Linked DNA regions of Homo sapiens. The protein of the gene in region 1 purifies or fractionates together with the protein of each later gene. This does not show direct contact. Each region holds a gene or a part of one and is shown on either strand. Other genes may lie near its edges. The genes, in order: PCP4, ACAA2, ACP3, RAB27A, CREG1, NUDT3 and PM20D1.

Evidence for each region.
Region 2: the proteins of PCP4 (region 1) and ACAA2 purify together in Homo sapiens (affinity purification with mass spectrometry; one large-scale study listed by BioGRID and IntAct). This does not show direct contact.
Region 3: the proteins of PCP4 (region 1) and ACP3 purify together in Homo sapiens (affinity purification with mass spectrometry; one large-scale study listed by BioGRID and IntAct). This does not show direct contact.
Region 4: the proteins of PCP4 (region 1) and RAB27A purify together in Homo sapiens (affinity purification with mass spectrometry; one large-scale study listed by BioGRID and IntAct). This does not show direct contact.
Region 5: the proteins of PCP4 (region 1) and CREG1 purify together in Homo sapiens (affinity purification with mass spectrometry; one large-scale study listed by BioGRID and IntAct). This does not show direct contact.
Region 6: the proteins of PCP4 (region 1) and NUDT3 purify together in Homo sapiens (co-immunoprecipitation; one large-scale study listed by IntAct). This does not show direct contact.
Region 7: the proteins of PCP4 (region 1) and PM20D1 purify together in Homo sapiens (affinity purification with mass spectrometry; one large-scale study listed by BioGRID and IntAct). This does not show direct contact.

Annotation. Positions count from the first base shown.
Region 1 is NC_000021.9:39,898,438-39,901,937, reverse strand, and holds part of PCP4 (calmodulin regulator protein PCP4), read right to left. Parts: intron 3,463-3,500; coding exon 3,411-3,462; intron 1-3,410. UniProt on the Homo sapiens protein: Functions as a modulator of calcium-binding by calmodulin. Thereby, regulates calmodulin activity and the different processes it controls.
Region 2 is NC_000018.10:49,786,034-49,789,533, forward strand, and holds part of ACAA2 (3-ketoacyl-CoA thiolase, mitochondrial), read right to left. Parts: intron 1,329-3,500; coding exon 1,258-1,328; intron 1-1,257. UniProt on the Homo sapiens protein: In the production of energy from fats, this is one of the enzymes that catalyzes the last step of the mitochondrial beta-oxidation pathway, an aerobic process breaking down fatty acids into acetyl-CoA.
Region 3 is NC_000003.12:132,327,407-132,330,906, reverse strand, and holds part of ACP3 (prostatic acid phosphatase isoform PAP precursor), read right to left. Parts: intron 2,641-3,500; coding exon 2,545-2,640; intron 1-2,544. UniProt on the Homo sapiens protein: A non-specific tyrosine phosphatase that dephosphorylates a diverse number of substrates under acidic conditions (pH 4-6) including alkyl, aryl, and acyl orthophosphate monoesters and phosphorylated proteins.
Region 4 is NC_000015.10:55,230,814-55,234,313, reverse strand, and holds part of RAB27A (ras-related protein Rab-27A), read left to right. Parts: intron 1-3,500. UniProt on the Homo sapiens protein: Small GTPase which cycles between active GTP-bound and inactive GDP-bound states. In its active state, binds to a variety of effector proteins to regulate homeostasis of late endocytic pathway, including endosomal positioning, maturation and secretion.
Region 5 is NC_000001.11:167,550,963-167,554,902, reverse strand, and holds the start of CREG1 (protein CREG1 precursor), read left to right. Parts: upstream 1-1,140; 5' UTR 1,141-1,161; coding exon 1,162-1,515; intron 1,516-3,940.
Region 6 is NC_000006.12:34,279,179-34,281,924, reverse strand, and holds the end of NUDT3 (diphosphoinositol polyphosphate phosphohydrolase 1), read left to right. Parts: 3' UTR 1-2,246; downstream 2,247-2,746. UniProt on the Homo sapiens protein: Cleaves a beta-phosphate from the diphosphate groups in PP-InsP5 (diphosphoinositol pentakisphosphate) and [PP]2-InsP4 (bisdiphosphoinositol tetrakisphosphate), suggesting that it may play a role in signal transduction.
Region 7 is NC_000001.11:205,847,333-205,851,309, reverse strand, and holds the start of PM20D1 (N-fatty-acyl-amino acid synthase/hydrolase PM20D1 precursor), read left to right. Parts: upstream 1-1,177; 5' UTR 1,178-1,237; coding exon 1,238-1,406; intron 1,407-3,338; coding exon 3,339-3,425; intron 3,426-3,977. UniProt on the Homo sapiens protein: Secreted enzyme that regulates the endogenous N-fatty acyl amino acid (NAAs) tissue and circulating levels by functioning as a bidirectional NAA synthase/hydrolase.

The DNA.
Region 1 (3,500 bases):
ATTACTTCTAGAAGTTTTTACCCTCATCTTTCTTGGGCTGTTCCAGTTTTTGTCTTTGCTCCTTTTTAAAGGCAAAAGCACAGACTTTAAATTATAATAAAGTATCACGTACAAATATCATATATAGGCAGTTTTAGCTGAAATTAAAGTATAGCATGTTAATAATAATTTACATTTATACATTGCCATTATCCAGTAACTGTAAAATAATCTCAAATTCACTTTTCTACCCAAAAGTGACTATCATTTAATATCTAGAATTATCTAATGAAAAGCCTTATTCATAGCATCAGGAATATTTCCATTTAATTAATTTTTATACCTCCATAAAAAACCTCACTCAGTTTCCACTGGTGTGGACTGGTTTTCAGCTAAAAGAAATTCCATGTCTTTGAATGGCAGAAAATGGCATCACTTATAGTAGCCGGTAATTCCCTTTGGTGCAAAGCACTGAGCATGTCAGCATGGTTTGAAAGACCAATAGGATGTCAAGATAAAGCCAAGGGGCAGAGACATCGAACACATAGGACCTAGTCCTGGCTTCGTCACCATGTGCCTGGTCTTCAGGCTCCTCAAGGCATGACATGAGACATGCTGAGCAGTAGTTCCCAAAGTGTGAACCAGGTACCCTGGGGGGTGCCTACATCCTTTAAGGGAGCCCAAAAGATCAAAAACATTTTTGGTCTTATAAAAGATATTATTATTATAAAAGGTAAGAGTTTGATCTTAAAGGATATTATTTGCTCTTTTAAATCTCATACTCTCACAAGTGAGCAGTGGAATTTTCCATAGGCTACACATCACATGATATAACAGATTGAACACAGAAGCCAGTATGAAAATCCAGCTGTCCTCTGTCAAACCAGACTTTAAAGAGAGTTGCAGAAATGTAAAATTGCCACTTTTTACTAAATATCCTTTTCCATTTTGGAAAATATAATGACTTTTCATTTTTTAAAATGTTACTTACATTCACATGTAGTGGGTTTATTATTTTATTTTTAATAAATTAATAAGAAAAACCATTTAAAACTTTCTCCATTTTAATTTCTAATATAGGAGACAGTGTATGGCAGATACACCTGATATCAATAGCGTAACTTAAGCATACCCTGAGAATGACCCTATGGTCTAAGAAGAATGTGTGCTTGGAGTCGAGTTCCGAGCTAAGGAATCTGGGAGTGGCCAGTATAGAGATTCATTCTTATCTATGAGGAACATCTGAATTCCCAGCCCATCCCATGGGATGCAGGCCATACAGGGGATTGGGGACATTTGTTTTGGAATGAATGTAGATTGCCAAGTAGAAGTTGCTAGAGGGAGGGTGCTAAGTGAAAACGCTGTGTAAACTGCATGCTTGTTACAGGCAGCTGTGGTTCTTTTATCCAGCCCACCGCCACTGGACTGCCCTATAGGTAACTCCCCTCAATAAATCCTATGTCTTGTTCACTGGCTCCAGGTCTTTTCTTCAGTACCATCTCTATAAGAGTCAGTAGGGTTCCAGCATGACAAACATCAATAGATATCACCAACATAAACAAAAGTTCTTTGGGGTCCTCAAGAATTCTTTAAAATGGAAAGGAGTTGTGAGAACAAAAATGTTGGCTGGGTGCAGTGGCTCACACCTGTAATCCCACCACTTTGGGGGGCCGAGGCGGGTGGATCAGCTGAGTTCAGGAGTTCGAGACCAGCCTGGCCAACATGGTGAAATCCTGTCTCTACTAAAAATACAAAAATTAGCCAGGCGTGGTGGTGGGTGCCTGTAATCCCAGCTACTCAAGAGGCTGAGGCAGGAGAATCACTTGAACCCTGGAGGCAGACGTTGCAGTGAGCCGAGATTGTCCCATTGCACTCCAGCCTGGGCAACAAGAGTGAAACTCTGTCTCAAAAAAAAGTTGAGAATCACGACAATAGAGGATCTCTGAGAAGTCTTCTGACTGTAAAACTCTAATTCTAAGGTTGTGAGGTTCAGTGGAAAGGAACTTGCATGAACAGATGGCTACGAATGTATGAACTGGGAAAATCAGTGGAGGCTCACAGCGCCCTATGCTCCCCTATGGCAGGCAGTGGGTCCTTCCTCATATAGGCAACTACAATATTGCTCCTCCCTTTTAAGCCCCATCCTTTGCTCCTTCCTCTGCTTCCTGCCTTCCTTGCCAGTACCCCACACACCCACCCCAACTCACACACAGGAGACAGGAAAAGCCCTGGGCAGCAAAGGAAGAGCCATTGGCCTCATGGAAAACCTTGTTTCCTTCTTCTCCCAGCCCCCTAGCTCCAATTAGGACATTGTGGAGCCCCCACCTCTCTACTTATTGATATGATGACCCCTTTACCCAGGGAACACTGCACTCACCCTGCCCAATAGGACTGCCCTAAATGGGTGGGCATATTGGCAGGCTGCAGACGCAGAGCAACATTCTCATACTTGAGTCTTGCTCAGCTCAGACCCACCACAGAGGCTCCAAAGGGGTTGTGAGGCCCCAGGGAATTTTAACCGATGGTATTTGAGATTGGCATTATCCACAATCTGATTGATGGACACTAGCATCAATTTCATCTAGTTGGAAGCAAGAGTCATTTTCCATAAAAGGAGAGTTCATCTTGAGTTAACAGAAAGGAAGAACACCCAGAGTCTCACCTCACCGGAACTATGCTGTGGCCCTTGGTGCATACCACTGGGTATTTTTTATTATTATGCTTGTTCTTATGTCAATTGCTAAAGTTAGAGACCTGGGGTTCCAACTGGCTCTATTTCCTTCAGGATCCATGCACTTCCCATTTCTAGCTAAATCTCACCCCAATGCCAAGCCTCCATTTCCTGATCCATAAAAATATGATGATCATTCCTACAATTTAGGGTCATGGTTGAGATGGGCCCATGAAGAGGCAGGATGCAATGTTCCTGTCACTGCTATCATTTTTATTTGCTGGTGAATCGCTGCAGTGACATTCACTGACTCAGCACCTTCCAGTGGACCAGCACCGCATTGTGTGTGCTCCGGAGGGCTGAAGCAAGTTTTAAAACATCATTTCAGAAGTTGTGTACTTCACAGTTTTCAAATCACTTATCTCGTTTGATCTCATTTTATCCTCACAACAACTTGGATGATTCTCACCCACCCTAATGAAGAAAGCAGAGAACTAGATTTGCATTGTAATTACCATGTTGCCCAAAATGGGAGTCCTCCTATGGAAGGGAAACTTCTTATCACGGCATTTAGCTAGCTCAGTTTTCTTCATAAAACCAGACCTCAGTGCTCACTGTGAATTGCTAAAATCCTCTGTAAGCTGAAGCGCAGACACATATAGTAAGCTGTTTGGGATGGGATGTATGATCCGCACCTGCTGCATACCCAGGGCTGCAGATGGCAAAAGAGAAAGAACTTGGACTATTCATGTCCTCTTACCATTTTCACCAGATGTCTTGTCTTTTCCATTGGTTGCCCCAGCACCTTGTCGCTAAAGGCAAAAAATAAAAGAAAAAAGCAATTGTTATC
Region 2 (3,500 bases), on another chromosome or scaffold:
AGTACTGTATTATCATATGATCTTAATTCAGGAATTTTATAGATAAGGAAACTCATTCTAAGAAAGGTAACTTTTGCAGAGTTGGGATAAAATTCAGTCTTGTGCTCTTTCCTACTATACTTTGTGGTCTCTCAAGATGGTGCCTCATATGTGCTTAGATCCACCATTATCTTTCTACTCTATATACAGAGCCATCTTCAAGGAGGTACTAAGAGACCTAGAATAGGTAGTGAAACTAGGCTTTTGAACCTAGGAAAACTATGGTCTGAGTTATGTCCTTGAGAATGTATACATTTCCAAATGATTATGAACAACTTCCCAAAGTTGATATAGTTTAATAGTTTTAAATGTGAGGTCTAAAGTGAGAAATTTAGTGGTACCTATTTGCTGACACAAATATAATAAATTAAACAGCCTCTTTGAGGCTCTGAACTGTGATCTGCTAAAAGTGGAAGAGATTTAAAGATAAACCATTTGTCTGAAATCATGGTTTCCTGTGTGAGAGATTATCATAGAGGAAATCACACCTGTGCCTACCCCTTCGCTATCAAGTTAAATAGATTTCCTTTGTTCTATTAGTTATTTCCCAATGCCAGGCATCACATGCTTAATCACCTAAAATTTTCAAATAAATATTCCAAAAGTGTGGAATGTATATAACCATCTTTAAATGTTTCTCCACCTCTTCTTTTAATTATGCTTAAGACACTTTAGTTCTAATACTAACATTTAAAAAGAAATCACTCAATAAATTTAAGTTCCAGTGTCAAAAATTATGATAGGTGCATCCCAAATCAAGCTACAACTATCGTATAAAAGCCAAAGATACATTTAAGGGAGGGGGCTCTATCTGGCGAGAAGGGCAAGAAACTTGTAGATTTGGCACTAAATATTGCTTTTCTATTATGTCAATTATTTTACATATATTTTTTCACTTTAATATTCAACAGGCATGTTAATAGTCTAAAATGTAACAGTTTTATAAAGTAGTAAGAAATTCCCAGGAATTTATACTTGAGTAAGAGAAATCAGGCAGTTTGAATATTCAAATATAAATAAAGCATGTTAACCAGGTGGGGAAAAGTATCAACACAAGGCATCTAATGAAGGTACTATTTATTTAGATGTACATCATTTGGAAAGGCTAACTACAATGAAATTCAAAGAGCAATGAGACCAAATTAAAGTCATTTATGCTATAAAAGTACATGGTTTATTCATGTTGTTAAAAAAAAAAAAAAAAAAAAAAACACTTACCTCTACCAAATCCATGTCCTTAAGACTCAGTCCTGCTTTCTTCAGTGCCCCACTGATAGCAGGGACAGGACCTATATAATAATAAAAATCTTCTATAAAAATATAGAAATAAATGTCATCTTATATTTACGTATCAAGCTTCTCCTTCTTTCCAAGTAAGGAAGAAATAATGCGGCAGTTATTAGTAGCCACAAATCTTACTACCTTGACCGTACCTATTAAATGAAGTGACCATAAAGAGGCAGAAAAAGGGCCCAGGCATGGTGGCTCATGCCTGTAATCTCAGTACTTTGGGAGGCTGAAGTGGGAGGATCACTTTAGCCTCCTGGGCAACACAGCAAGACCCCATCTCTAAAAAAGAAAAAAAATAATAATAAAAATAAAATGGAACCAAGGTGAAAAGTTGTTTATACATTCAAACTGCAGATAAGAGAATTACATGAAAAGTTCTACCATAAACGGCTTTAAGATTGAAAACAGCCAAAGGAGTCCATATATGGGATTTTAGTTATGTTAATAGATTATAATTGATATCAAAGAGCAAGGCAGACTGAGTGCTCTACTTGGGATCCAAGCCATATGCATTCACAGCACAGAAGTTACTGTGGCTACACTCTGAATTTTCAGGCCCATTTGGATAAAAGACAAGAAATAGCAGTATCTCCACATGGGCACAGAGAGATGGGAAACTACGAGGCACTTCAGGGAAGGTTTTATGAAGTAAGGTGATGTTTACAACTCCAAGGGTAGGCAGGAAATTTAAATAAAACATAACTCCTAATTTAAGAAATGCAACTCCATCTAATAAGACTTCTGAAATAAACTTTAGCTCCCAGATTTCTGATGATGTAATGAGAGTTTAATATTGCTCATAATTTAAATCCATATTTTTTCTCAAAAGGTAAAAAATTTGGGTAGAGAAGATTATCTACTTCTCGACTTGTTCTTAAAGAATGAAACTGCCAAAAATGTCTACAAAGAAAAATATGTAGTATGTTCTGCTGAATTCAAGTAGTCAAATATTCTGCATCAAGTTTCACAAGCATTTTACCTTATAAAATGGAAAATCAGTCTTTACAAGAAAGGCATAATGAAACCTAAATATAATATTTATTTTGTCACGTAGTTAAAATACTCTTTGGACAACAAACCACGTGCTTATTGATTAGGACTATCCAGTTAATGCACTTCAATTTAAAATGCCAGTTTCATGTGGCTACTGATTTACTACAGCTACTGATTTACTACAGGATCTGATTCCAGATTCTCTTTGTATGTCTAAAGCATGAAATCATGAAAATGAGATGGGTAGTCAGTAGTAAAGCATCAGTTATCCAGCCTGGTGAGGGGATGAAGTAGCCAACAGTGGTGACAGACACATAAAAGGTGGACAATGTTCAGACCACTGTACACACTTCCTTGTCTGCATAAACAACACAGCAAGCATGACTCGTACTTTCACTTTAACTCAGAATCCACCGTAACAATATGCTAGGCCATAACTCGATTTTTAAAGGACTCTTCCCAGACCACTGTTATTTACTGGGACTTCAGGAAGGTTTAGTATTCTTGTTAGGAAAAGGAGACCTTATTTCTAGTCCTGGTTCCTGTCACTAATAGCTGTGCGACTTTGTGCATCTCTCTGGGCAACAAGCTACTCATCAATAGCACTCTGAATGGGTTTTCCACCTTTTTCTCTTTAAGCATCAGAATTCTTTTTGCATATGATGCCAAGTAATAGATAATGCCAGACTGCTCCAGCTGAAGAGGCTCAAAGTTCCACCCACCAACCTCTACCATTGCCACCCCTGAGGAGTTCCAGGGAGTGCTGTCTTTCTATAGCTGTGTATTTCCTCAGAACCAGTACTATTCTTTTCAAGTCATGGCTTTCCCCGTTTTTTTTTGGTCTGCAGCTATTCTGCAGGGCTAAGGATTGCTAGTCATTAGGTAATCATGGAACTGAGAACCACTATTCTTGTAAGTTAGATTAACAAACCAGTTCCCACTAGATACTTAATAACTTATTCTCCCCACTTATTCATCTGGGATGCTTCAACGAGTTACTTTGTTTAATCCCATCACTATATACAAGTGACAGCCAAACTTCTAGATGAAGGGGGCAGCTGATACTGTGGGACATCTGGAATGTACAGCTCTGTTCAAGCCCCGAGGAAAAATGACAATCCTACCACAGGAGCATTCTTTGTACTTTAGGGCAAATATTCAGGCCCAGGAACAGAAGG
Region 3 (3,500 bases), on another chromosome or scaffold:
ATCAGAGATTCCAGCTCATTAGTTCCTGAGTGGGGCCCTGACATCTGCATTTTAACAAGTCTCCCAAGTGATTCAGATGCATGTAGTAGAGCACCATGCTTTGGAAATGCAGCATTCAAGTTTGTCTTTAATCCAGAGCCTTACTAGAGCTTTGGGAGCCAGAGAGGAGGTTGTTACGGTGGCTGCTGCTTGGTCCCACTTGTCATTTGCTTGTCACACTTGTCATTTGCTTGACCACCACTATAATCACTTCCCATCTACGATAGGGACAAGGTGGGAAAGGAATAATATACCGTGACCTGAGTAGCGGAGAAGCAGGTACTTTAGGTCTAATTGTGTTCTTACAGCTGACTTTTTAAATAGTCGTCTGTATGAAGCAGTGATTTTCACACTTTAGCATGCACAGAATCACCTGGAGGACTCAATAAAACACAGACTTCTGGGCTTTAATTCCAAAGTTTATGGTTCACTGGGTATTGCGTGAAGAATTTACATTACTGAGAAGTTCCCACGTGATGGTGATGCTGCTGGTCCAGGGACCACACTTTAAAAACCACTGATCTAGACAGCCATCATCTTATGATTATGCAGATTAAAAATACCTAGACAAGGCAGATTAAAAGTACCTAGACACTGATCTAGACAGCCATCATCTTATGATTATGTAGATTTAAAGTACCTAGACAAGGCTGGGTGTGGTGGCTCAGGCCTGAAATTCTAGCACTTTGGGAGGCCAAGGCGGGTGGATTGCCTGAGCTCAGGAGTTTGAGACCAGCCTTGGCAACATGGCGAAACCCCATCTCTACTAAAAATATAAAAAATTAGCCAGGCGTGGTGGTGCTCTCCTGTAGTTCCAGCTACTTGGGAGGCTGAGGCACGAGAATTGCTTGAATCTGGGAGGCAGAGGCTGCAGTGAGCTGAGATCGAGCCACTGCACTCCAGCCTGCGGGGACAGAGTGAGACTCCATCTCAAAAAAAAAAAAAAAAAAAAAAGTACCTAGACAAGGGTAGGAATCTGAGCCCTAGAACCTTGTCACTTCAAATGTGGTCCATGTACCAGTGCCATTGTCATCCTTGGGAGTATGTTAGACATGCAGAATCGCAGGTCCCACATCAGACCTGCTGAATTAGAATCTACATTTTGACAAGATTCCCAAGTGATTCATTTGCACATGGAAGCTTGAGAAATACTGCCCTAATAGAATCTGATGGGTAATCAAGGTTCTTCAGAAGAAGAACTCAGATCCTGCAGCCTAGAAGAATCTTTTGGTCTTAATGGGAAAACATAGCAACAGAACAGGAGTCTATACAGAGCCATAGGTATTAACAAGCAAATCTGAATTTTTGTAGCCTCTCTTTCATTCAAAGGGACAGAAGATGGGTAGGCTATGGTGAGAAGAGCTTTGACCTGGGAGACAGAAGATGCTGGTCTCAAATAGCCTGCCTGAGTTTTCTCCTCTATGAAATATAGTCAGGGCAGAAATTCTCAGCCTCGGCTACACATTAGAGTGAACTGATCACCAAGGAGCTTCTAAAAATCCCAATGCCCAGGACACATACTAGACCAATTAAATAAGAACCTCCCAGGCAGACATCAATATATTTTTTAAACCTCTCCAGATAATCCCAATGTTTTGGCAGGATTAAGACCCATTAGTTTTTGAGACATTCTACTCTAAAGATTCTGTGACATTTTCTTAATTAATATATTTAAACAGATCAGGACAGAAGCAATTCACCTGGCCTTGTGGCTCCAAACAGAAGAGTCATCCAATCTTACAAGCAAAGGGAATAGGGCTTTGGAACAGTGACTAAAGATGGCTTTGCTCCCCAGTTCACCTTCTCCTTAGATGCTCTTCAGAAAGTAGGGCTCCCTGTGTTTAACTGACCACTTATAAGGAAGGTCAAATCCCAATATATCCAGCTGACAAGAAATCATATTCTGATATCAGCACTTTGGGGAATCATGTTTCCCAATGCTGTTGATTCAGCTTATTGATTACAAGACTATTTTTCACTTTCTCATGTGAAGCCTAAGAAATTCAAATCCTGGCTTATGATTACCACTTGGCTCTCTTCAGCATTTCTAAGCTCATATAGTCTTTGTTCATGTACATCTCTTACATTTAAATAAAGCCAGAAGGGCAAAAAATATCAAAACAGACAATTCTATATACATTTCCCCTTGAGACTCATCAAGAATCTTTTTTTTTTTTTTTTTTTTTTTGAGATAGAGTTTTACTCTTGTTGCCCAGGCTGGAGTGCAATGGTGCGATCTTGGCTCACTGCAACCTCCACTTCCCAGGTTCAAGCGATTCTCCTACCTCAGACTCCCGAGTAGCTGGGATTACAGGTGCCCACCACCAATCCTGGCTAATTTTTGTATTTTTAGTAGAGAGAGGGTTTCACCACGTTGGCCAGGCTGGTCTCGAACTCCTGACCTCAGTTGATCCGCCTGCCTCGGCCTCCCAAAGTGCTGGGATTACAGGCGTGAGCCACCACACCCAGCTTCATCAACAATCTTTAGCTAAAAGTCCAACCAACCTGGGTGAGTTGGCCAAATCCTTGTGGCCATGAGGATTCCTTTATGGGGTCAGTGGGAAAGGTGTCAATGGGACTTCGGTCTCCATGCCGAAACACCTGAAAGTAGATGTGAGAGAGTGATGTTACAAACGTCACTTGGGTGTTTTGCTTCTGCTCATTATAATAGTTTTTTTTTTTCTAACTCATTGGTTTTAACTTTGGCTTCCCATTGTAATCACGTAAGGAGTTTTAAAAGATTCTGAGGACTGGCTTTCAACCTTAGTGATTTTTATTTAATTAGTCTGGGATGTGGCCAGGACATCAGGATTTAAAAAATCTCCCTGGGTAAATCTCTAGTTAAGAACCACTATTCTAAGTTCACTAACACTTTCACTGTGTTTCAGGTAATGTAAGAATCAAGATGATCAGCCATTAGAAGGCAGGTGACACATAATGGAGATCGGTTTGTACATAAGATAGGACAGAAAGGAACACAAAGCTGACAAGAGTACTTTACTGCAGACAAACTCTGATGAGAAGTATTCTTCCCTTAATGATTACAGTAATAGTGGTATAACTTTTTTTTTTTTGAAACAGTGTCTTGCTCTGTTGCCCAGGCTGGAGTGCAGTGGCGAATCCCAGGTTCAAGCAATTCTCCTGCCTCAGCCGCCTGAGTAGCTGGGACTACAGGCGCTTGCCACCACGCCCAGCTAATTTTTTTATTTTTAGTAGAGATGGAGTTTCACCATGTTGGCCAGGCTGGTCTTGAACTCCTGACCTCAGGTGGTCCACTTGCCTCGGCCTTCCAAAGTGCTGGGATTACAGGTGTGAGCCACCGTGCCCAACTAGTATAACTTTTTTTTTTTTTTCGAGACTGAGTCTTGCTCTGTCATCTAGGCTGGAGTGCAATGGCACCATCTTGGCTCGCTGTAGCCTCTGCCTCCCAGGTTCAAGTGATTCTCATGCCTCAGCCTCCC
Region 4 (3,500 bases), on another chromosome or scaffold:
GGAGTGGGGAATGCCAGTAGTGAATGTGATGTTCTGCAGAATGTTGAAGGGAGAAACTTTTATTTATTTATTTTTTAAGGACTTTGAGACTGAAAGTTATTCTAGTGTTGGAGGGGAAGGCAGAAGGTCATGGTGTCACAGTTGCAGATGAGGAAAGATGGCTTTCTCCTTAGACTACATTTCTTGTTGAAAAATCCATTGTTGGCCTGAAGCAGGTAAACCAGTTGTCAGGAAATTAATGACAAAGGTCCTTTAATGGATCATATTCTGTCAGGGGGAAAGGTCCCTGGCTTTTAAGACAGAAGAACATTCCCTTTTGCCCATTCTAGTATTTTATTCTACTACCAGAGAGGCTTATAGAGATTAAGACCCACTGAATAACAGTAGGGCCCTAATGAAATTTTTAGTATTGACGTGTAGTTGATAGAATCTACATATATGTATGTGATTATTTTTGTTGGTTACTTATTGTATAACTTAAAAAATAGATTTGTTGAGATATAATTCACAAAAAAAGGAAATCCATCCATCTAAAGTATAAAATTCGGTGGTTTTTAATATATTCGGAGTTGTGTGGCCATCACAGCCATTCAATTTTAGAATAGTTTCATCACTTTAAAAAGAAACCTCATACCTATTAGCAGGCATTCCTCTTTCTACCTCCCCTTAGCCACCATGAATTTTCTATCAATGGCTTCTGCACACACCATATAAATGGAATAATATATGGCCTTTTGTGTCTGGCTTCTTACATTCAGCCTGATGTTTTCAAGGATCTTCCATGTTGTAGCATGTATCAGGACTTCATTACTTATTATAGCTACATAATATTCTATTGTATTGATACACCATTTTGTTTATCCATTTGTCTGTTGATAGATACTGTTGTTTCTTTTTCTATTTTCTAGTGCATCATTTTAATTCCCTTTTTTGTTATATGTTTTTGAGTTCTTTTTTAAAAATTCCCTTGGGGATTACAATTATCTTAATTTTTCACAATCTAATTTTGATTAATAGCAACTTAATTTTAATACTGTGTAAAACTTTGCTCTTATGTGGCTCTGTTTTCTCCCATATTTTTGTGCCATTATTGCTATACGAATGACATCTTTCTACATTGTGTGCCATCATCAATACAGCTTTACAATTATTGCTGTATGCAGTTAATTTTTTTTTCTTTTTTCTTTTTGAGACAGGGTCTCTCTCTGTTGCTCAGACTGGAGTGCAGTGGTGAGATCTCAGCTCACCGCAACCTCTGTCTCCCAGGTTCAAGTGATTCTCCTGCCTCAGTCTCCCAAGTAGCTAGGATTACAGGCACCCGCCACCACACCCGGCTAATTGTTTATATTTTTAGTAGTAATGGGGTTTTGCCATGTTGGCCAGGCTGGTCTCGAACTCCTGGCCTCAAGTGATCCACCCATCTTAGCCTCCCAAAGTGCTGAGGGATTACAGGCATGAGCTATCACTCCCAGCCTGCAGTTAAATTTTAATCTAGTGGAGGAAAAGGGCTACAAAGAAAAACCACGTTTATACTGTTTTTTATATTTACTATGCAGTTACATTTTTACTGGTGCTTATTATTTCTTTGTGTGGATTTAAGTTACTGTCTAGTTTCCTTTCAGCTTAGTCTTGAGAGTTGTCTGTAGTATTTCTTGTAGGATAGGTCTGCTAGAGATGACTTTTCTCAGTTTTGTCTTAATTTATCCTTTAATTTTAGAGGACCGCTATGTTACTGATTTTTAAGTTCTTTGAATATATTTATAATTCCTGATGTAAAGTCTTTGTCTAATAAGTTTAACATCTGGGCCTCCTCAGGAATAATTTCTATTCGTTGTTTTTTTCCTGCGCATGAGCCATACTTTCCTGTTTCTTTGTGTGTCTTATACGTTTTGCTGAAAACTGGACATTTAAAATAATGTGTCTATTCTAGAAACTCAGATTCTTTCCCCTACCTGGGTTTCTTGTTTTTACTGCATATTTATTTATTTTTGTCGTTGCTGTTTGTTTAATTATGTTTCTGGGATAATTCTGCAAAATCTGTATTCTTTGTATGCAGCTACTGAAGTCTCTGCTCAGTCAACTTAGTGGACAGCTAATGAGTGGAGAGAGTTTATTAAATTCCTTGAACTAATAAGTCTCTTAGCTTTTTCTGAGAGTCTCTGTGTGTTTGTTGGGGTATGTGTTTAATACTACTGCAGGCAGTTTACAACTCTGCCTTAGCTTTTATTTTCTGCCTGAGAAGAACCTCAAAGTCAGTCAGAAGTGAGAGATTAGGACCTTTTTAGATCTTTCCTGGGCATTTGTAGAGCCCTGCCCATGAACATGGCCTTTTAGGTTCCAAGGAATATTTGGGAGCATTATAGAAATCTCATTTCCTATTTTTTTCTTTAAATTTTTTTTTTGTTGTTGTTGTTAGACTTTTGTTAGCCCTAACTGGTATTGCTACCTCTGGTAGCTGTGATGTTAAATAATTACTGCTGATAGTTTTCAACAAATGCCCTTGGGATAGGGCTGTTCTCAAAGAGCAAGCTTTGAGTGAGGTCAAAGAAAGACAAAGCTGGGGCATGGAGCTTTCCAAGGGGCTTCCTGACAATTTTTCTCAGTATGGGACTTTTAGGGAGCTCCAAACCTGTTGTTCCTCTGCTGTCCACAGTGGTGGCTAGGCTGATGTTTTCACAACAACCACATTTGTGCACATGGTTTTTAAGTCTTCTAAAAGCTTGAGTGAGGGGGATGGGAATAGGGCAAGGTAAAAAACACCTCAAAGCTTACTGTTTTTACTGATATTCGGCTGTTTTTCTTGAATAAATGCTCCTTGGAATGTTGCAAGTCTTTGTTAATTCCTAGAGTACTGAAAAAGTTGATTTGGACAATTTTTACCACTGTTTTTGTTGCTATTGTGGAGGAAGAAATTTTTGATGGTCCGTTCTCTGCTGTTCTAGGAGTGTTGTCTATAAAATTCTTTTAAGAGCACTTTTAAAATTTGGGATGGGACAAGGGAAAATTGTTCTACCAAAAATACATCTGCACTCAAATGTTTATTGCAGCACTATTCACAATAGCAAAGTCATGGAACTAACCCTAGGTGCTTATCAGTGGTGGATTGGATAGAGAAAATGTGGTACATATACATCATAGAATACTATGCAGCCATAAAAAAGTGAAATTATGTCTTTTGCAGCAACATGGATAGAGCTGGGGACCATTATCCTCAGTGAATTAATGCAGAAACAGAAAATCAAATGCCACATGCATTCTCACTTATAAGTGGGAACTAAACAATGGGTACGCATGGACATAAAGACAGAAACAGTAGACACTAGGGACTCCAAAAGGGGGAAGGGAGTGGGAGAGGGGCTGAAAAACTACTTATTGGGTACTACATTCACTGTTTGGGTGATGAATTCAATAGATGCTCAAACCCCAGCATTATGCAATCTATCTACGTAACAAGCCTGCACATGTACCCCCTGGTTAAACAAACAAAAAAGATGAGATTG
Region 5 (3,940 bases), on another chromosome or scaffold:
ATTTACCCTGATATGACTATTATGCATTGTATGCCTGTAGCAAAATATCTCATGTACCCCATAAATGTATACACCTACTATGTACCCACAAAAATTAAAAATTTTAAAATAAGTAAATAAAAAGTTTTTTAAAGGTCTTGAACTTTCGGGCTTCTGCCTAACTTTACTACTAGTGTAAGTGGGCCCCTTGAGATTTCAGCACCCCAGCATTTGTTAGTGACTGAAATAATGAAAATTCTGATCAGGCCCTTGCTTGCACATGTTGACAACTCTCTTTTTGCCCAATATCCCTTGTTCCTACAACATAATCATAAACTGCTGATGTACTGTTTCTTTATCAAGCAGGAGGAGATAATAACTTCAGGGTTACGAAAAAGTTTGCAGGAGGAATAAGTCCTTTGAAGTACTTTGAGGCCAGCTTCTGTCGCCCAGAAGTCTGATTGTTCAAGGAATTATCTGAGACTGAAGAAACACAGACTTTTTCCCTCGATTCCCTGAAACTCCCCCTCCCTGACTCGCTGGCCGCATAAACACTCTCTGCTTCTTCTTTTTGTTAGGGCGGATTTGAGAGATCTTGCCCTCCCGCCTTCTCGCTTTGGCCAAATCGAATAAACTTTTATCTCCAAGCACCTATATGTCAGTGTTTGGCATCAGCTACACATGGGGTACACGAGCCTGAGTCTGGGCTTCTACAACGCTGGGACCCTCGCTGTTCTTTGGAGCTGATGGTAAATTCAACAGAAAAGAGGCGCATGGGTAGAAAATGCAGCATTTCCTCTCAGATGCCAGATATTCATCTCCAAAGGTATTAAAAGGAGGGGGTGTGTGCCTGTGTAAAGAGGCTGGTCTTTTCCTAGCAGTACGATTTGGGCAAGTTGCTTGATTTCTTCAAGCCTTTCTTTTTCCGCCTGTCAAACAAAACAAAACAAATATCCCGTTTAGGACAAATTCACAATCCTTAAAGAGGGCAGGCAGAGCGATTGGAATGCAGATGAACCAATCCCTTCTCCTGCAGGTTGCGGAGCTGCAGAGGGACCCCGCCCCCTGCATTGTGCTTAGCTCTGATTGGCGCCTCGCGGAGGGGGCGGGGCCTGGGCGCGCCGAGCTCCGGCTGGGTCCCTGCAGGTCTTGGGGCCCGGGACTCTTCCTGGAGACACCGCCATGGCCGGGCTATCCCGCGGGTCCGCGCGCGCACTGCTCGCCGCCCTGCTGGCGTCGACGCTGTTGGCGCTGCTCGTGTCGCCCGCGCGGGGTCGCGGCGGCCGGGACCACGGGGACTGGGACGAGGCCTCCCGGCTGCCGCCGCTACCACCCCGCGAGGACGCGGCGCGCGTGGCCCGCTTCGTGACGCACGTCTCCGACTGGGGCGCTCTGGCCACCATCTCCACGCTGGAGGCGGTGCGCGGCCGGCCCTTCGCCGACGTCCTCTCGCTCAGCGACGGGCCCCCGGGCGCGGGCAGCGGCGTGCCCTATTTCTACCTGAGCCCGCTGCAGCTCTCCGTGAGCAACCTGCAGGTGAGCTGGGGCCCGCGGCTTCCCCAGGCGGGCTGTGGGCGGGGCGGCCACAGAGCGAGCCTTCACTCTCCCCAGAATTCTTCCCGGGAAGTGGAGCGTGGCTCGAACGGCTGTTGCTTCTCTGCCGCGCAGGCAGGTAGGTGGGCGTTGCAGCGTCCCAGATGTTGGGCAGCTGGGTACCAGGAATTTCCCACAAGCCTCCGCCACTGGGCCACGCACCTGGGGTAAATTCTCTGCCAGCAGCCCGAGGACTTCTCATCCGTGAGTGGTTCTCAGTCGTCTTGGGGCCCAGTGTCTCTATTAACTGTGCTCCTATTCTCTTTTTTTTTTTTTTTCCCTTTGAGACAGAATCTCACTTTGTGGCCCAGGCTGGAGTGCAGTGGCGCTATCTCAGCTTACTGCAACCTCTGCCTCCCAGGTTCAAGCGATTCTCGTGCCTCAGCCTACCGAGTAGCTGGGATTACAGGTGCGTGCCACCACACCCGGCTAATTTTTGTATTTTTAGTAGAGGCGGGGTTTCACCATGTTGGCCAGGCTGGTCTCAAACTCCTGACCTCACGTGATCCACCCATCTCAGCCTCCCAAAGTGCTGGGATTACAGGCGTGAACCACCGCGCCCTGCCTGGGCTCCTATTCTTAAAGGTTTTACAGGGCATAGAGATTGTTAGGTACTTAAGCACTTTAATATGTGACTTCAGGGTTTCTCACTCTCTTACCCTTCCTGAATTAAGCTTTTCCCTCCTGCAGCAAGACGCTAACGTACAATATCATGGACGATTACAATGATTACTGCAGTCTTTAGGCCTCCACAGGCATAGTGGCTCCTCAGTAAGATGCAGAGCTGATTGAAGGTGTATCTCTTCCTCGCCCTTTGCCCACCTTCTGGTGCAGGGCCACACTTACAACTCTGATGGATCTCTGCTGTCTCAGGGATGGGGTCACAGACACCCAGCTTGGGAGGCCGGAGACACACAGAGTCCAGGAATGGAGCCTGATTTGATGGAGGGTCTTTTTGACAAAGCTCTCACATTTGAGTTCAACTCTGAAAGTACAACATTGTTGATAAAGACAGGATGCAAGAAACTGATGCTTGATTAATCACTTTTCCATTTGCCTTCCATTCGTTGTCTCTTCTATTAATTCTTTGAAGTAGGTATTATATACCCCATTCTGCAGATGAAGAACTTGAGGCCTACCTAGGTTAAGTAACTTGTTTAAAGCCAGCGGGCAAACCCCTAGTTTCATCTCAGGTTCATCTTTCTTCAAACCACCTATCACAGGCTGGTGGCCCATCAGCTGAATATGTCCCACAGACCGGTTTGGCCTACACAAAGTTCTGTTTTGTTTTTAATAAATTTGAATTTGTTACCAACATTTTAAAATTTAGATTTTACTTTAAAATGTAAATCTCTAACTTTTCTTGAAAAATGGGAAGATCCAGTGACACTGTGGGCCTGCACTCTTTGAGCAAAAACAGAAGCAGTGCCCTCTTTTAGCTAAGGCAGATACACCCCAGTTCACCATTTTCTTATTCCCAGCCCATTCCACACCTTTAGGCGTTTGCTCAAAACAAACTCACTCCACTCCATCAGTGGTGCTCAACTTTGACTGCAAATCATAGTCACCTAAGAAGGCTTTAAAAATGGGATGCCAAGGTATTTTATTGAAAGCACATTTTATTTTAAGACAACACCCCTTCCCGCCTCCCCACAAACCACTCCCTGATGATTCTAATGGGGGAGGAGGGAGATTGACCAATACATAATCATATTTAAATTTGTGAGGTGACTAGGGAGTTGCTGGTATTATTGTCCCCATTTAGGAAGTGAGGAAACACAGACTCAGAGGTGCAGGGACTTACCCTGTGACCAGTCAGCTAATGGCTGTCAGGTAGGACATTAGCCCAGGTCTTTCATGTTTCTAGAAATAGACAGGGCAGTGGCAAGGAACCTACCCAGGGCTTTAGGTTTCCATGATGGCAGTGAAAAGAAGTGGCCACATTAGAATTTGTCTGACTTGATTCCATCAATTAGCAGGTCAAAGTTTCTGCTTTTTTCTTTTCCTCCTCCTGACCTCCAGGGTGCTCTGCATTTCTTCTCATTGACAGGGGGTGAAATCGTTCAGAAGGAACAAAAAGACCTAGGTTTGGGACCATTTCTCATGTGTAAAATACCTGTCCTCTGTAACTTAGAGATATGTTGTGAGCTTCAAACGTACTTACCACTGGGCTGTTTCTTTTGTATGTCTCTTTCTTTGTGGCATTTTTGTATAGTAAATGTCTGTAGGACAGTGTTGCTGATGTTAGCTTATAGTGGGACCGTGTTTGGCTGCAGAGCCAGTGAGTCTGAAGGGAAATCTTGGGGTTTGATTATTTGCACCAAGACCTCTTACTATTAGCCTCCCTTCCATTTTGGCATTCTTTTCT
Region 6 (2,746 bases), on another chromosome or scaffold:
CAAGAGGCTTGTGTCCTCCCAAGAACATGAGGGAGTTCAGAAGGGAGCTATAGCTCACAGACAGAAACCTGCCCGCTCACCCCATCCCTCGTGACTGGGAGCATGTTTGCTCAGAATTTTCTAAGAGGACTCTCCCTTCAAAAATCCAATTTGCTCCCAGAATGTTGTTTAGCCTCTGAGAATCTCACTCTTTCATTTCCATCTGTGAATGGACATAGATGTGTTGCTCAGGGATCAGAAACATCAGAGTCCAGGGCCCAGTGGCATGGTGTTGCATTAGTAGTTAGAAAAGTAATTGGTCAGCTCTACTGTAAAAGAAATAAGTATGTAGTACAGTTTTGTAAATGTCAGGTCTGTTCTATTGTTTTGTGATCTGAAGACTGTCAAACTGGTTGATAATCAAAGAAAAGGTTGGTGGTTAGAATAAGTAAAATTTCAGTTAGAAAGATATAGCTTACCAGTTTTCCATGTGCTTAAGGAAGTCAAGAATATTTCAGGTTGTTGAGAACTGTTGTAAAATGGAATTGAAGCTAGTGTCTCTCACCTTCTTAGGTGTATCAGAGAGAGGAAGTGGAAGGCCAGTAGTAGCATCTTCATACTTACTTTTGCCAGCCCAGCCTCCATTTCAAAGACTTTGTCTTCCATCCTATCCAATGACATGGTCAGGGATGGGCTCTGAGGAGGCAGTGAGGCCCCACCTTGGTTTGCTCCACTGTGGTGTGTAGTCTCCAAACAGCTTAAGGGTTTTTAAGTTTTCTCACGATTACCTCCACTCCACTCATCTACTATCAGCATCAGAAAGGTTAACATCCCTGGGACCATTCTACTTATAAAAGAGATGAACTAGTGTGCTTTCTCCCCTTTTCCAGGTGTGCCATCCATATACAATCTCCTCTTGGCCAAGTTCAACAAATGTTTCCAGGGAACCCCGTGGGTTGAGGCAAAGTAGCCAAGATGTATTGAGTTAAGTTTTTCTAGAGGACAAAAGTATTTCTTGTCCCTTTTCCCTCATGCTCATATGTTTTAGCTGAGGCGTAAATGGCCAAGTTGAGTAATATCTGTGGAACTGAGACAGAGAGCCAGGGACCCATGTACCCAGGGACCAGTCCCCTGGGGAATCACACAGTGGCTCAGACTAGACTGCTCTATCCCACCAGAACTCTGCTGCTGTTCATTTCCATCAGGACCACCCAGGAAAGCAAATAAGTTAGCCTTCTCATCATTAGGTCACCTAATCTCTTGGGTTGCAGGATGAGAGCATATATAGATCTCCTGTTTAGAGAGTGTGTTCATAATTGTAGAAAGGGATAGAAAATGGAATAACCAAGAGGCTGTGTCATTTTTTAAGAGGATGGCAAGGATGACCTCAAATGAGCTCAACAAAACTGGGAATCCAAGGAATGGTGCTTGTAGGGAAAGAGAGGTCAGTTGTGGTCCTTAAACCTCTTGGCACCTTGTGCGGGTTATAAAACAAGGAGCTGGAGTAAAATTGCCCTTACCCCCAATCCAAATGCTGTCCAGGATTTAGGAGCTACCCAACCTGTGGTTATATGGTGTTGGTTTCCATTTTTTGTTTGTTTGCTTGTTTCCAAAATAGCCTTGCTTGGTACTGCATGGAAAGTTCAAGCTTTTCTTCTTGCCCGCTCAGGGCTGGCCTCTTCCCCGTGTCTTCACAGCGTCCCTAAGGAAGATTTTTGCAGCACTCTCTGGAGCTGAGGGGAGTGAAATTTGGTCCAGAGAAGGCGGAAGGAAATAGTTTTCCTGTTTCCTTTTCTCGAGGTGGATGTCCTCAGGCTTCCTTCACACCTCCTTCTCATGGGTGCGGCTGGCAGTACAGTCAGGCTGTGGAGGAGGGCTGAGAAGAAAGGGGCACTGGTCCAGCCCCAGGTTTGGTCTGAGACAGGTACACAGCAGATACCATCCCACCTTCCTCTCTAAAGAACAGGCCAGCCACACATATAACCCTTTCCCTACTTTACTAATGTATCCCTTATGTGGTACCAGCAATGGAGGACAGGCAGACTTACCCCCTGCCATCTAGAGAGAATGTTGTTATTACCCGTAAAACTTGACCACCCCCATATCCCACTCCTTTTTGTAAAAACAAATGCTTAAACCTGTGAGCCTGCCGTTCCTTTCTATGTGTTAATCAGTTTCCTTCCATTTGAGCTGTGTGGGAGGGAAGGGCATTGAAATTGTAGGTTGTAATCTTGTGCCAACCAATAAAAACCAGTATTTCACACACATCCCTTTTAGTGTCTGGTCTCTTCTTTCCAGAGGCTTCCCTTGAGTCCTTCATGTCAGCCTTTTGGTTTCCCCCACTCCTCTGCTAGATTCTTGGGAATTGCCCTAGAGGTCAAGGGTGACCCCATGGAAGATTTGGTGTGCAGGGCATTCAGGTGAGAAACGCAGTGGAGAAAGCCAGAGGCTATTAAAATCAGCATGTTGTTGTATCTTGCCGTCCTTGCTACCAGGTGCCGAGACAGAGCCCTGGTTAGACGGTCAGTGCCCACTGCTGAGGAGAGGGCCTGTACCCCTTAGCCAGGGAGGCTTTCTAGGGGACCCAAAGGAGTTGGAAGGGGTAAGAGGTGAGCCACATCCAGAATAAGGAAGCATCACAAGAAGTTGCTTTCTTCTGTGTGGGGTGGAATCAGGAAGGGCGGAGCCATTTTTGAAGCTGTGAGTGGTAGGGCTTGCAGGCCGAGAATGGGTGGGCATCATCAGTGGGAGAGCAGCATTAAGTGAG
Region 7 (3,977 bases), on another chromosome or scaffold:
AGGTCGGGAGTTCGAGACCAGCCTGACCAACATGGAGAAACCCCATCTCTACTAAAAATACAAAATTAGCCAGGCATGGTGGTGCATGCCTGTAATCCCAGCTACTTGGGAGGCTGAGGCCAGAGAATTGCTTGAAACTGGGAGGCGGAGGTTGCGGTGAGCCGAGATCGCCCCATTGCACTCCAGCCTGGGCACCGAGAGAGAAAAAAAAAGAAAAGAAAAGAAAAGTAACTACATGGCTGAATTTTTTTTTTTAAGCAAATCTTAAATGAAATGCAAACACCAGGACTGTGAACCTGTAGCTTTGGTCACAGGTAGCAATATGGCCTTACTGGTTGTATAGCACTTACTGAATTTTTCTTGAGAATTCTAAAATTTGAGAGTGATGCCAGATAAAATTGCATCAAGAAATCTGAAAGGAACGATTTATTCTGGCTTCAGGAAATCTGATTTTATATTTCTGTGACATAAGACAGGTTTTCTTTTTTCCAGAATGATCCTCTACTCTGAATAACCATAAAATTTCACTTGTGGAATACATCAAAATTATTTATACATCAAAATTCTCTTAAATATTTTATAGTAATCTTTCTAAAAATCCTTCAGTCTTACTGTACTTGTCTAGAGTTGCAAAAATGTAGTGTTAACATTAATATTAAAAGCACTTTCAATGAAATTTCTAAACAGGAGCCAACCCTCTGAGCTGGTATTTCAAAGCAGTATCTATAAACAGAGCAATTTGTTCCAATTTCAGATGAAATCAAGCTGGGAACCTAGAGAGCTCCCCCGCCCCAGGATCTAGGGAATTGTAGTCAGGTTCTAAGCTTCGGAAAAAACGAGCAGCAGAGTATGGTCTGATAAGCTTCGTGCATTTTATTTTGCTTTTCCTCCTTTATTTGATTTGTTGTCATACAGGAAAGGATTTATGGGTGAGAGATCAAGTGCGGACCAGACATGACTCTAGCCTGGAGCCCGACCTCACCTCTGCTCTGCAGGAACTGCTGGCCTCAGCACGAAAACCCACAACCCTCGAAAGGCCTTAAGGATCCTGGGCGGGGTCATTCTGTCAATTGGTTGTTCCGCTGTCCTAGCGAAGCGATGATTGGTCAGATCTGGATATGGGGTGTGGCTAAGGCTGTTTGCCGGAATAAGAGCAGAGCTAGGGCCAAGAAACGCTAGTCTGGGCGTTTAGGTCAGAACTACCCCGGTAGCCTGACAGCAGGAGCTCGAGAGAAGCATGGCTCAGCGGTGCGTTTGCGTGCTGGCCCTGGTGGCTATGCTGCTCCTAGTTTTCCCTACCGTCTCCAGATCGATGGGCCCGAGGAGCGGGGAGCATCAAAGGGCGTCGCGAATCCCTTCTCAGTTCAGCAAAGAGGAACGCGTCGCGATGAAAGAGGCGCTGAAAGGTGAACCCGGGTCCCCTTCACCCACCTATGCTCATATGTGGGTCCCTCCCTCCCCAGGTCAACCCGTGACTCCCCGCTTCCGCCGCAAAGCATCTGCTACTGCAGCTGGAGCCCCGACACGCACCCCAGCCCGGCCCCAACACCCTTCCCAGCACATCGTGCCCCTGTCTGGGGACGCCACACTTCCCCCATACCTGGCTCCTGGAACTCTGGTGTGCCCTGCCTAACCTGGAAGCTCCAACTTCACCCCTCTTGGCGTGACCACCGTCCATTCTTTCCCCTGCTTGCCTCGAGTATTACACCAGCTTTCATTTGTACATCAATTTTAACCTTTGAAAGTTTGCATGCCTGATAAATTACTGCGGTGTCGTAAAATAAGACAAATGATATTAGTCTTATCTACAAAGGAGAGAAATTGAGGCTTAGGTCAGCTAAATGATCTTCCCCAGGGCCCCACAGCAAAGAGTGGGCAGTGGGTGACAGCATCTAGTGCCTGTCGGACTCGCTGGGATCAGATGGCTCTAAAGAAAGGGAGTGGAGTGTTCCCGGGGTGTGGGATGTTCCTAATTCTCAATCATAATTGAAGAACATGTCTCCTCTAGATCTCTAATCCAGACCAAAAATTCATCCCTGTTCTGAATCTGCATTTTCCAGGAAACAGGAAAGTTTCTGTTGAGTGCTAGATCCTATGGGATGAAATCCTTCTTTACCATTCAGCTTAGCTCCAGTCTTTTCCCTTTCATTAAGTAATGGATTAAGAGAGACTGCCTGCATAAACATATAGAAGCAGATGCAGGGACCAAAAGCTAACCCCAATAGTTGGATATAGATTGTTCATATGCTAGAGTGACAAGCCTGGGAGGCAGAGCAGGGCTTTCCCAAAGCATAAATAATTCTCTAAAAGGCATTAGACAGCCACTCACAGTCTGCACAGAAGAGAACAAAAGCTACATAAGCTAGAATAGGGACCTCATAGCAACACAGCTTGGAACTCTGAGCAGGGGACAGAACACCTGAGATCAGATCCTTGGGTCTGCCCTTGAGTAGGCACTTGAATCTTTCTGAACCTCGGCTTCCCCATCTATCTGGTGGGCTATGCTATTGTAGGGTTGATCCTTAGCAAAACTGATGAAGTTTGTCTTTCAGAGACCCTTCCTGCCTCAGGTGAATTTGTTTGCACTGTGTTCTTGGAGAGCAGTCTAATTCAATATTCTCATGATTCATGCTTTCCCTCCCAGTGGTTTTGTCTTTGATCATGGAACTCTTTAAAACTGTAAAGTCTTAAAGACTCAAAGGGATGAGCCCAGTGAAGGTTCAGGAACTGAGACAACTGAGTAAGGAGGGTGAGATTATTTTAGGACTGAGGAGTTTGTTTGGAGGCTTCTAAATCCACCCCTTCCCAGGCATTATATGCCCAAAAAGCTGGTCTTGGTTGACAGACTAGTGAGACTCTGCATAAGGAATAAGCCTTTACATACAAAAACACACAAGCCTCATTGATGTAGGGACCCAGGACAGTGGGTGCCTTGAGAATGATGAAGCTTGGATTCATCAAAGCAATTGGTGATTTCAGAGGTAGTGAGGCCTTAGGAAGCAATTTATAGTAGCTTCCCTTCAAGACCAGGATCCAAAAATCCACTTCCCTCCAATCTTAGACTGTATTTGCCTTTAAGAACCATATCAGCCTAAACAAACCCAGAAGACATAGGTTTAAATCTATAGTCTGCCTGTTGCTCAGACAGCTCACCTAACCTCTCCAAGCATTTTCCCTCATCTTCGAATTAGAGGAAACAATAGCGCCTACCTCACATTAGTGTTTTGCCCTCTGCAATATGATAATGAAGGCAAAAGAACTTTTTGTGCACAGAGGACTGTAGAAAAAAACAATGACTAATTCATTTTCAATCTTTCATCTCTATTTGACTCTGACAGGTGCCATCCAGATTCCAACAGTGACTTTTAGCTCTGAGAAGTCCAATACTACAGCCCTGGCTGAGTTCGGAAAATACATTCATAAAGGTCAGCTGCAAATCAGGGGCAAGGGGTGGGTGGTAGAAATAGCAATGGAGACACAGTTCTTTTACAAAGTGATAAAGAAGTTTATTTTGCGACTGATCAGAGGACAATCTAATTCCCATAGGCAGAGTAGAGACTGTAGATTTGCTCTTGGAAAAACTAAGCCACCATATGTAGGGCAAAGATTGAGAGTTCATCCAGCCATTGCATTAGAGTACAAACTCTCTCAAATTTTGCCCTACATGTGTGTCATTCAATAAATGTTAAATCATCAAAAAGTAGAACTAGGATTTCCTTCTACTTGTGCAACTGCCCAGAACTATGTTCCATGCTCCTCCCACCCCTACCTCCTTACACACCCAAACACACCGGTACATATACACTCCACGTACTCAGGCCTACCCCAGATTCATTACTAACACATTTCTAGGCCTCTAGGCAGTCAACAACTTTGAGCTATAACATCAGTCTTTTTCCCTCATCCCTACCACCCATTGAGTACAGAGCTGAGGAAGGATGGGTCAGAGGAAAAAAGGATTCTTGGAACTCCTCCCT